Linked DNA regions of Homo sapiens. The protein of the gene in region 1 purifies or fractionates together with the protein of each later gene. This does not show direct contact. Each region holds a gene or a part of one and is shown in the gene's direction. Other genes may lie near its edges. The genes, in order: ZC3H4, ZNF346 and KSR2.

What was found.
Region 2: the proteins of ZC3H4 (region 1) and ZNF346 purify together in Homo sapiens (co-immunoprecipitation; one large-scale study listed by IntAct). This does not show direct contact.
Region 3: the proteins of ZC3H4 (region 1) and KSR2 purify together in Homo sapiens (co-immunoprecipitation; one large-scale study listed by IntAct). This does not show direct contact.

What each region holds. Positions count from the first base shown.
Region 1 is NC_000019.10:47,072,251-47,075,900, reverse strand, and holds part of ZC3H4 (zinc finger CCCH domain-containing protein 4), read left to right. Parts: intron 1-3,187; coding exon 3,188-3,549; intron 3,550-3,650. UniProt on the Homo sapiens protein: RNA-binding protein that suppresses transcription of long non-coding RNAs (lncRNAs). LncRNAs are defined as transcripts more than 200 nucleotides that are not translated into protein.
Region 2 is NC_000005.10:177,025,578-177,029,227, forward strand, and holds part of ZNF346 (zinc finger protein 346), read left to right. Parts: intron 1-3,650.
Region 3 is NC_000012.12:117,458,453-117,462,102, reverse strand, and holds part of KSR2 (kinase suppressor of Ras 2), read left to right. Parts: 3' UTR 1-3,650. UniProt on the Homo sapiens protein: Location-regulated scaffold connecting MEK to RAF. Has very low protein kinase activity and can phosphorylate MAP2K1 at several Ser and Thr residues with very low efficiency (in vitro).

The sequences.
Region 1 (3,650 bases):
CCACAGGGTCTGTGCTGGCAGGACCGATGGGCAGTTTGGGTTGACTCCGCAGTTGACTCCATGGTGGAGTCAACCATTCAGGGCCTGAGCTCCTTTCTCCTCTGCACTGGACCCAGCCTCTGGATTCCAGGGAATGCATTGGTTTGTGTTCCTTGCTTAGTCGTTCACTCAATAAATCTCTGTGCCTTGTTTGTGCCAGGCACTGGGGGTGCTGAGGAGGCAGGGTTAGGTCCTTGGGCGGATGCTGATGACACATGGGGAGTGTGAGTGTGTGTGTGTATGTGTGTGTGCGCACACACACGTGGGGATCAGGCCGTGAAGAATAAGTGTGGGAGCCCAGGACTCTAGCTGGGCTCTATTCAGGAGGCAGACATTCAAGAGGCTTTGTGAGGAGGTGACACTGGCGGCCCCAGGATGTGCGGCAGTGGGGACTGAAGAGGAGGAGGAGGAGGGAGATGCAGGGTGGCAGCTGCAGCGCAAGCCATGGCCCCACACACAGTTGAGGAAGGGCCCTTGGGCCAGGAGGAAGTGAGCCCGTGGCAGTGTTGAAAGCAGCTGGCGCAAGGCTCTGGGCCCTCCCAGCAAGGCTCATCTCAGGTGGTGGTGCCCACGCTCAAAGGGCAGAATGCGGGTTCTGCCTCCACGGGTCCCCCTGTGCTGCTGGTTCACACGCTGACCACCCCTGGAATATCAGGGTTCAGAAGGACAGAGGGGTTCCACCGCGTCGTTTTCCACACCTCCTCCATGAAGCCACATTCTTATTGGACCCTGGGGTTCCAGGGTCCAGATACCATTGCTAATGGCTAGGAGAAGGGAAAACTGCGAATGCACAACCCCCACCAGGGGGTCCTGTTTCTGTCCGCCTTGCTGTTCCTGGGCAGAGGGGCAGGACTAGTTTATCTTGATGACCCTGTGTTAGGACCAACTAAGGGATCTGTGCTGGGGTCCCCAAGATGACCCAGAGCAACTTGCTGGGGGACTCACGGCCAAGATGTTAACTGCGGTGAAGGGACACAGGCAAACTCAGCCCTGGGAATGAGTACATGAGGGCGCCTGGAGGAAGCAGGCGCATCCTCTTCCTGTGGACTCGCAGGGGCCACGCTGCCCTCCTCCAGTTGTGACAGCACGAGTGGCATGCTGTCTGCGAGGAGACTTGCTCAGCGCCCAGGGTTTTCACTAGGCTGCTCACCTAGGCAGCCTCTGCCCAGCATGGACCAAAATTCCAGATTTGGGGGGCAAAGCAGGCATTCAGCACAAACTGCATTGGTTGCAGAAACAGTTTAGATGCAGTGAGCCCCTCTTACTGGACAGTGAATGCTGGGAGCCCTCCCAAAATGCAGCTTCCCAGACACCAGCCGAGGCCTAGCCTTGCAAGCAGGCCTTCCAAGGAGAGCAGCCAGGCCTCCTGTGTCACTTTTCTGCACGCTATCCTAACTGATGAGACATTCTAGTCCAGTTGAGATTTTGACATTTCTCATTCACTCACTGGGCGTCTGCCCTGTATCAGGTCTCGTGGGGGCCCTGGGGATATAGCAGGGAAGAAACAGTCCTGCCCTCTTGGAGTTGATGGGGAGGTTGAGCCAGGATGAACATGGGAATGACTGAATAATCCGACAAGGCATAGGCAGTGTTGGCAGAGAACTCCTGGTGACCCAGTAGTGAATACAGGAGACTGGACAGACACTATGAATTGACATCTAATGAGGGACCTCAACAGTTGAGTGACGTTGAGCCACATGGGAATAACAGGAAAAATAAAAACCTGGGGGAAGCTGGTCCTGGCCCTGTAGGGGAGAGCTTGGCTGCTCATTGCACTGAAACGAGGCTGGGTGGTTGGGGTGGAGGAGTCGGGATCGTGGGAGGAAATGAAGCTGCCAGGAAGCTACCCAGTCGTCCCCAGATACCTAGACACCCAGACACCCACCCCTGCTCTTAGGCCCTAAGGGTCATGGTCAGGAGTTGAGATCAGAGGCCCTTAAAATCCAAACATGACAGGGGAATATGATTCAGCCATAAAAAACAGAGTGACATACTGATAGATGTAGCAGTGTTGTAGATAGATGCACTTTGCTAAGTGAAAGCGCCCATCGCACACAGCGCATGAGTCTGTTCGCAGGAGCTGTCCAGCAGGGGCAGGTCCGCAGAGACGGAAAGCAGAGTGGCTGCCGGGGGCTGGGGGTAGAGGGTGGGGAGCGATTGCTTAGTGTGTACAGGGTCTCTTTTGGGGGTGATGAAAATGTGCTGGAACTATATAGAGGTGGCGGTTACATAACATTGTTAATGTGCCAAATGCCACTGCATCGTTCACTTTGTTTTGTTTTTGTTTTTTGAGATGGAGTCTGGCTCTGTCGCTCAGGCTGGAGTGCAGTAGTGTGATCTCGGCTCACTGGAACCTCCGCCTCCCAGGTTCAAGCGATTCTTCTGCCTCAGCCTCCTGAGTAGCTGGGATTACAGGTGCCCACCACCATGCCCGGCTATTTTTTTTGTATTTTTAGTAGAGATGGGGTTTCACCATGTTGGCCAGGCTGGCCTCAAACTCCTGACCTCAGGTGATCTGCCCACCTCAGCCTGCCAAAGTGCTGGGATTACAAGCATGAGCCACCACGTCTGGCATTATTTATTTATTTTTGAGACAGAGTCTCCTCTGTTGTCCATGCTGGGGTGCAGTGGTGCGATCTTGGCTCACTGCAGCTTCTGCCTCCCATGTTCAAGTGATTCTCCTGCTTCAGCCTCCCGAGTAGCTGAGACTACAGGCGTGCACTACCATGCCTGGCTAATTTTTGTATTTTTAGTAGAGATGGGGTTTTGCCATGTTGGCCAGACTGGTCTTGAACTCCTGGCCTCAAGTGATCCACCCACCTCGGCCTCCCAAAGTGCTGGGATTACAGATGTGAGTCCCTGCGCCCAGCTGAATCGTTCACTTTAAATGGTTAAACAGTATGCTTTGTTATGTGTATTTTGCCATAGAGCAGGAATGGCCCCCCCTCTACCAGCTGGTCCCCGAGAGTGGAGCAGAGAGGTGGCTGATGATGATTTTTGTTACAGAGCCATTGTGGTCTTTATGCCTTTAGATCTCAAGGTCCTTGTATTATGGACTTTTCCTCATAAACTTCAGCTCTCAGACCTGGAGAGGTCCGTTTCCATCCTGACCCCGTCCACACCTTCTTTTGTTCTTTCACACCCGCAGATGTTGGCCGATGATGCAGAAGCAGGTGCCGAGGATGAGAAGGAGGTGGAGGAACTGAAGAAGCAGGGCATCAACCCCCTGCCCAAACCGCCCCCTGGTGTGGGCCTCCTGCCCACCCCTCCTCGGCCCCCTGGCCCGCAGGCTCCAACCTCTCCCAACGGCAGGCCCATGCAGGGTGGCCCCCCGCCCCCGCCCCCTCCCCCTCCCCCACCGCCCGGGCCCCCTCAGATGCCCATGCCGGTGCATGAGCCACTGTCCCCGCAGCAGCTGCAGCAGCAGGACATGTACAACAAGAAGATCCCCTCCTTGTTTGAGATCGTGGTGCGGCCCACGGGACAGCTGGCTGAGAAGCTGGGTGTGAGGTGAGTGCCCTGGACCCCCGTGACAGGCAGTGGGCGCTGTCCTGGGCCCAGCCAGGCTCCTCTTGTTAGGGCAAGCCTGGCTGTGGGAGAGTCCTGCCTCT
Region 2 (3,650 bases), on another chromosome or scaffold:
GCATTCTAGTGGGCATGTAGTGATATCTCATTGTGGTTTCCTAAAGACTGATAATACTGAGCAACTTTTCAGGGGCTGACTACCCATTTGTAGATCTTTGGTGAAATATCTATTCACATCATTTGCCTATTTTGTAATTGGGCTGTTTGTCTTCTACTGAGTTGTAAGAGTTATCTGTGTATTCTGGGTACAAGTCTTTTATTATAGATATGATTTCCAGGTATTTCCCCCTGACTGTGACTTGTTTTTTCATTTTCTAAACAGTGCCTTTTGAAGCACAAAAGTTTTAAGTTTTGATGAGATTAAATTTATCATTTTTTATCCTATGTATTGTGCTTTAGTGTCATATCTAAGAACTCTTTATCTTAACCCAAGATTTGAGAAATTTTCTCTTGTAGATCTTCCTTATTATTATTATTATTTTTTTTTTTGAGATGCAGTCTCACCCTGTCACCCAGGCTGGAGTGCAGTGGCATGATCTCAGCTCACTGCAACCTTCGTCTCCCTGGTTCTCCTGGAGGAGGTCAAGCGATTCTCCTGCCTCAGCGTCCCGAGTAGCTGGGATTACAGGTGTTCACCACCACATCTGGCTAATTTTTGTATTTTTAGTAGAGATGGGGTTTCACCACGTTGGCCAGGCTGGTCTCAAACTCCTGACCTCAAGTGATCTGCCCCCTTCAGCCTCCCAAAGTGCTGGCATTACACGCGTGAGCTACCATGCCCAGCCCCTTCCTCATCTTGTTTCTGAAGGAGTTTGTGAAGGATGGATTGGTAATTTTTTTTTTTTTTTTTTTTTTTTTGAGACAGAATCCCACTCTATCGCCCAGGCTAGAGTGTGGTGGCACGATCTCAGCTCACTGCAGCCTCCCTGTCCCAGATTTAAGTGATTCTCCCGCCTCAGCCTCCTGAGTAGCTGGGATTACAGGAGGGTGCTACCACACCCAGCTAATTTTTTTGTATTTTTAGTAGAGACAGAGTTTCACCATGTTGGCCAGACTGGTCTTGAACTCCTGACCTCAGGTGATCCACCAGCCTTGGCCTCCCGAAGTGTTGGGATTACAGGTGTGAGCCACCACACTCAGTTGGTAATATTTCTTTTTACAGTATTTTATAGAAGTGTTGACCTGCAAGGAAGAGGCTAACACACAAAATATGATTTGAAGAGTTTACTTGATTTTTAAAGGCAAAAAAATGTGGACAGGGAGTGGGACTCATACAAAGTTGTTTATCAAGAATTCTCATTGATTTACAGAAATAACATTGGTTAGTGATTGGCTGTACATTAAGCTGTAGGATGTAGGATATAGCGTCAGGTAGGGCATTATTAGGTTAATCCTTACCCACTTGTGGCAATAGCAAGCAGTTTTGATAGATGAATCTTAGCTCAAAAAGGGAGAATAGGAAGTGATTGCTATCTCATTTTAATATCTCTCTGGGCCCTGATCATTTAAAAAAACTTGGATTCTTTAGATAAAAGTTATCTTCTTTTTTTTCAGACAGAGACTCACTCTTCCGCCCAGACTGGAGTGCAGTGGTGTGATCTCGGCTCACTGCAACCTTTGCCTCCCGGGTTCAAGCGATTCTCGTGCCTCAGCCTCTCAGGTAGCTGGGATTACAGGCGCCTGCCAGCACACCCAGCTAATTTTTGTATTTTTCGTAGAGACGGAGTTTCACCATGTTGGTCAGGCTGGTCTCAAACTCCTGACCTCAGGTGATCCGCCTCAGCCTCCCAAAGTGCTGGGATTACAGGGGTGAGCCATCACGCCCAGCCGATAAAAGTTATTTTCTGACCTGCCTGGGCAACGTGGAGAAACCCTGTAAATTTTTGTAAAATTTGTGTTTTTGTAAAAATACAAACATTAGCCAGGTGTGGTGGCTCACATCTGTAATCCCAGCTACTCAGGTGGCTGAGGCACGAGAATCGCTTGAACCCAGGAGGCTAAGGTTGCAGTGAGCCGAGATTGTGCCACTGCACTCCAGTCTAGGCAACACAGTTGAGACTTTGTCTCAAAAAAAAAAAAAAAAAAAAGTTATCACCAGTGAAGCTACCTGGGCCTAAGCTTTTCTTTCTTCCTTTCCTTTTTTTTTTTTTAAATTCTCTATTTATTTATTTAGAGACAGGGTCTCTGTTGCCCAGGCTAGAGTGCAGTGGCACAATCATAGCTCACTGCAGCCTCAGACTCCTTCAAACTCAAAGCTAGGACTGCAAGGGCATACCACCATGCCCAGCTAATTTTTGTGTTTTTTTAAATAGAGGGTCTTGCTCTGTTGCCCAGGCTGGTCTGAAACTCCTGGCCTCTAGTGATCCTCCTGCCTCAGCCTCCCAAAGGGTTAGGATTATAGGCAAGCATGCGCCATGGCACCCAGCTGGCTTCGGCTTTTCTTTGTGGAAAGGTATTTGATTATTCATTTTCTTTACTTGTTTTAAGTGTACACAGAATATTTTGTTTCTCCTTGTGTCACTTTTTTTTTTTTTTTTTTTTTTTTTTTTTTTTGAGACGGGGTCTTGCCAGGCTGGAGTGCAGTAATGATCACTGCAGCCTTCGCCTCCCAGGTTCAAGCAATTCTCCTGCCCCAGCCTCCCGAGTAGCTGGGATTACAGGCATGTGTCACCATGCCCGGCTAACTTTTTTGTATTTTTAGTAGAGACGGGGTTTCACTGTGTTGGCCAGGCTGGTCTTGAACTCCTCGAACTCTAAAGTGATCTGTCCGCCTCTGCTTTCCCAAAGCACTGGGATTACAGATGTGAGGTCCCTGATTATTTTCTTGGTTAGTCTAGCTAAGAATTTGTCATTTTCTTGATCTTTTCTAGTTTCTAAGGTAAGATCTTATGTTGCTGATTTGAGTGATTTGAGATCCTTCTTTTCTGATGTAGATGTTTAAAATTATAAATTTCTCTCTTAAGCACTTGTGACGTTTTATATATATATATATATATATATATTTCCCTCCATAGTTCCTGGCTCACAGCTTCTATAACCCTTGTACTTTCCTCAGTGACTAAAGCAGTAAGAGTATCTTCTGTTAAAATATTTGGCCTTTTGTCCTTGCTTCCTGAAACACCTCTGGAACTGCTCCAGAGCAAGAAAGGTGAAAAACAGACTTTTGTTATTTATAACAAGCCCCTTTCTTTTTTTTTTTTTTTTTTTTTTTTTTTTATGAGATGGAGTCTCGCTCTGTTGCCCAGGCTGGAGTGCAGTGGTGCGATCTCGGCTCACTGCAAGCTCCGCCTCCCAGGTTCATGCCATTCTCCTGCCCCAGCCTCCCAAGTAGCTGGGACTATAGGCGCCCACCACCACACCTGGCTAATTTTTTGTATTTTTAGTAGAGACGGGGTTTCACCATGTTAGCCAGGCTGATCTCGATTTCCTGACCTCGTAATCTGCCCTCCTCGGCCTCCCAAAGTGCTGGGATTACAGGCGTGAGCCACCGCACCCGGCCATATAACAAGCCCCTTTCAGCCACACCTTGGTACATGTTAATAGGGTGATTTTTGAGAAGTCCCTAGATTACCACATTCTGGTTGGCTGGTTGCCATAGGAACCAACCATGTGCTCAGAGGCTTGGAAGTTACAGCCCCCCATCTTGAGAGGGTAGAAAGGAGCTGAAGGTTGAATTGATCACCGATAGCCAGTGATTTAATCAACCAT
Region 3 (3,650 bases), on another chromosome or scaffold:
TGTCATGCTTACCAAGCTTGCCCCAATCAACACGTCCCATCACTGAATTCCAACAGCTCTGGATCTCAGTTCTGTGGCTGTATGGGAACAGCCTGTGTGTAAGTGGCTTGTCTGTAGCGGACTGTCACTTGACCCCTGAATGTGCCTCATGACCCTATCCAAAGCAGTTGGTGACACAGCATCTGATTTTATCTATACTCTTGTTCATTGACAAAGGAGTGGATTTTGATGAGCTACATTTTGCTGTTTCCTTTTTTGGCTTTGCCTGTGATGTGGGGAAGTTCCTAGGCAGACTCATGTGGCCACTCTCCCTGGCTCCCAGCCTCACCTCCTCCCGTACCACCTCACCCTCACCTGCACACACCTGCAAGGGAATCACTTTGAACTCCAAGGGGAGTGACAGGCAGCAAATGTCAGTCTGGGTCCTGGAATGTGGAGCCGCAGTGAACCTCTGTCCTCTCTGGTCAGTGCCTGACTATGATATTAACCCAAATCCCAGACTCCCTTCTCGAGGCCCTGCAATCCATACCCATTCTGTTACCAGTTTAGTTTTGAAACCAGTAGTGGGGCAGGAGGTTGATGGAAAATCTGCGGTCCCAGTGACCTCCTGGACTTGTCTTAGTAGTGCCTGGCACATAGTAAGTGCTCAAGAAATGTTTACAGAATGCAGACAGAGAGGTTTGCTGGGTAAGAGTAAGACCCTGGCACAGGGAGTTAGAAGGGCACCATTGGCAGGGCTGGATGGTATTGGGATTCCCCTTTGCCAGACCATGTTGTGGGTGCCATATCAACCCCAATGAGTTTGTTTGTTAGGTTTGTTGTTGTGGTTTAGAGTTAGAGTCTTGCTCTGTCACCCAGGCTGGAGTACAGCGTGATCATAGCTCACTGCAGCCTCGAACTCCTGGCCACAAGCAATCCTCCCACCTTAGCCTCTCAAGTTGCTGGTACTACAGGTGCACACCATCATGCCTGGCTAATTTTTTATTTGTTGTACAGACAGGGTCTTGCTATGTTGCCCGCGCTGGTCTTGAACTCCTGGTCTCAAGCAATCCCCCTGCTTCAGCCTCCCAAAGCACTGGGATTACAGGGCTAAGCCATTGTGCTGAGCCAGTTTGCCAGGTTTAATATCTGTGACGTATGAAGCGACCCATTGAGTCAGGTGGCCCAGGATGTCTAGGAGGCAGAGTAACAATCCACCCTGAACAGCCCTCATTCACAGAGCACTTACTACGTGCCAGGCTGGAATTCCTATGATGGTTTGGGGAGATCAGTAGTCTTATTCTCGTTCCAATGGGGCAACTGTGGTACAGGGACAGAAACCAGCCTCCAAATTGCAGACCCAGCATTTTAAAAACGAGTCTTTGGGCTCATCCATTCCCAGGAACCCACCTCCAGGTCAAGGGGTTCATGTCCAGCTGCTCATGGGGATGTTACAATCCCAGCCTCTGAGACTTATTGGCAACTTGGAACCAGGAAAGAGAGAGAGGAAAAGCAGGAAGTTGTGGAAGGGAGGGTGCAGGGGCTGGCAGGGACCATACTGGGAGTTTGCACGGAAGCTTGAACTTATGTTCTCAAACTGACAGGCTGCCAGCAGCAGCCCGGATTTCCAGGAAATGTACATCTGGGTTGGCAGAGTCCCTCCTGGGTCCCTCCAGTATCCCTGCTCCAGGCTTCCTATCCCCTCCGTCTCTCCTGCTGGATGTTGCACTGTGGTCCCGTGTTCCTGAGAGGCGTACATCAGTGAGTGCTCTTCCCTCTCAGGGGTGGGAAAGGGCCCTTCCTTCCCACTCATTGGGATCATGCAGCTCCCATTTCCTAACACCAAGAATATGAAGGATTCATCTCATGGGGTTGAGAATGGCTGTCCTCCTTCCACTGAGGACTGAGCTGGAGGAGATGGACTCTGTCTAGAATGTGCCTGATCTAAATAAGACCTTGTTTCCCAAGCATGTCCCATAGACCTTTCATTCCATGGAAAACTCGCCGGATTTGCATTATTGAAAGGGTCCTGGGACAAGCATGCATTGGAAATGCTTAGGTAAAATGAAACTAATTTCTTGATTGCAGGACTTATCAGAACTTTTAAGACACTATTGTGTGGTTGAATCTCTAAATGCCTGATAGGAGGCTGTTCTTCCCAAGCTTTCCCAGGCTTGTTTCTGAATCTCCAACAAGGTCAACCTCTGTGAATGAGACTTGATACCTTACCTGGTACTGAAGGAGGCAATGTCAATGTACTGGCCCACAGAAAAGAGCTGACCACTAGCATTCATAGACACTGCTAGGAGATGAGAAAGGTAGCTTAGAGCCCGATTCCATCCATGTGGACAGTGGTTCCATGAACAAGAACACCACATCTGGCTGATGGTGTCTTCCAATGGAGGGGTCAAATCTGCTGTGTGTTGGTGGCTTCTCCAACATACCATGGCTTGGAGGCCAATGTGAAAAGTATATAAGATGTAACACCCTCAGAAGGGTTAAGTTTTCACCTGAGTTTTCATCTTCAACCAAGTCATTGGGATGGTGATCTAGAAGGACCTCTAAGATCTAGAAGGATAAAGATCTGGTCCAAGGAGTACAAATATGTAATGGATCTACCACCAGTGTCCCCTGCTGTACTCTTGGCAGACATCACTAATCCATCACAGCATGCCTTCCCACTGATCACAGATGTAGCTTCAGGGCATTCGAGTTACCACTTAAGATGGATATGAGTGACCCTCCCTTATCTCACTCTTCTCCTTTCACAGAAGCAGGATCTGAGGCCCAGAGAGGGAAGCTATAATAAACTCCCCTAAGTCAGGTCCCTTCTAAGAGGCAGAGGTAGGTTTAGAACTCAGGCCTCAGAAACTTCCAGAAGCCAAGCCATTTGGGCTGTAGTTGGTGGACAGTCTATCAGCGCTCTGCAGATGTTTCTTCTCAGTTAGGGAACTTGGAAAATGCAGAAAGAAAGATTCTGTCTCTAAGACTCTGTGTATGATCCTACTCGGTAATCTGCCTGCTTGGAGAAAAATCATTTATCTTCTGGGACGGCTTCACCACAAGGCCTGAATGCTATGCCCAGTCTAGTAACAGCTGGGCTGGAAGTCACGGCATATGGGGGCCTTAAGGAATAACAGTGTGCGTGGTGGTGTGCAGGAGAGCTGCAAGGGCTTTTCTTTCTTGAGGAGGTTTGTAAAATTTCTGCTGTTCAGTCTGGGCTTCTGGGAAGTCAGGGGGTGCTGCATATAAAGGGCAGGAAAAGGAGCCTGACTCCAATTGCTCTTTGGTTTCTTCCCTGAATGGAAGGCTCAAAATCAAGTTTCCACCCAGATAAGATCTTGAGGTCCTAGTGGACCACCAGCTCTACTCCTGAGCTCTTGAAATACCTCTAATCACCAGCTCGGTGGCTGAGAGTACCTTCTTGTCCACTGCCTCTTCTTTTCCTTCTCGTCTTCACTTATCCCCCATCCAACTTCTGCCCGATAATATCTCCCCTGTATTGTAAACTGAGGAGAAAGTTGCACAATTGTAGAGATGAAAAATAGCTGCCATGTATTTAGCTTAAATTAGCTCAGAAGAAAGGCTCCCTCCCTCCATTGAGCGGGCAGCACTTGTTTATGCCAACATGCTATTTGCATCGCGCCTTCTTAAATTTGAAAGTCTAATGA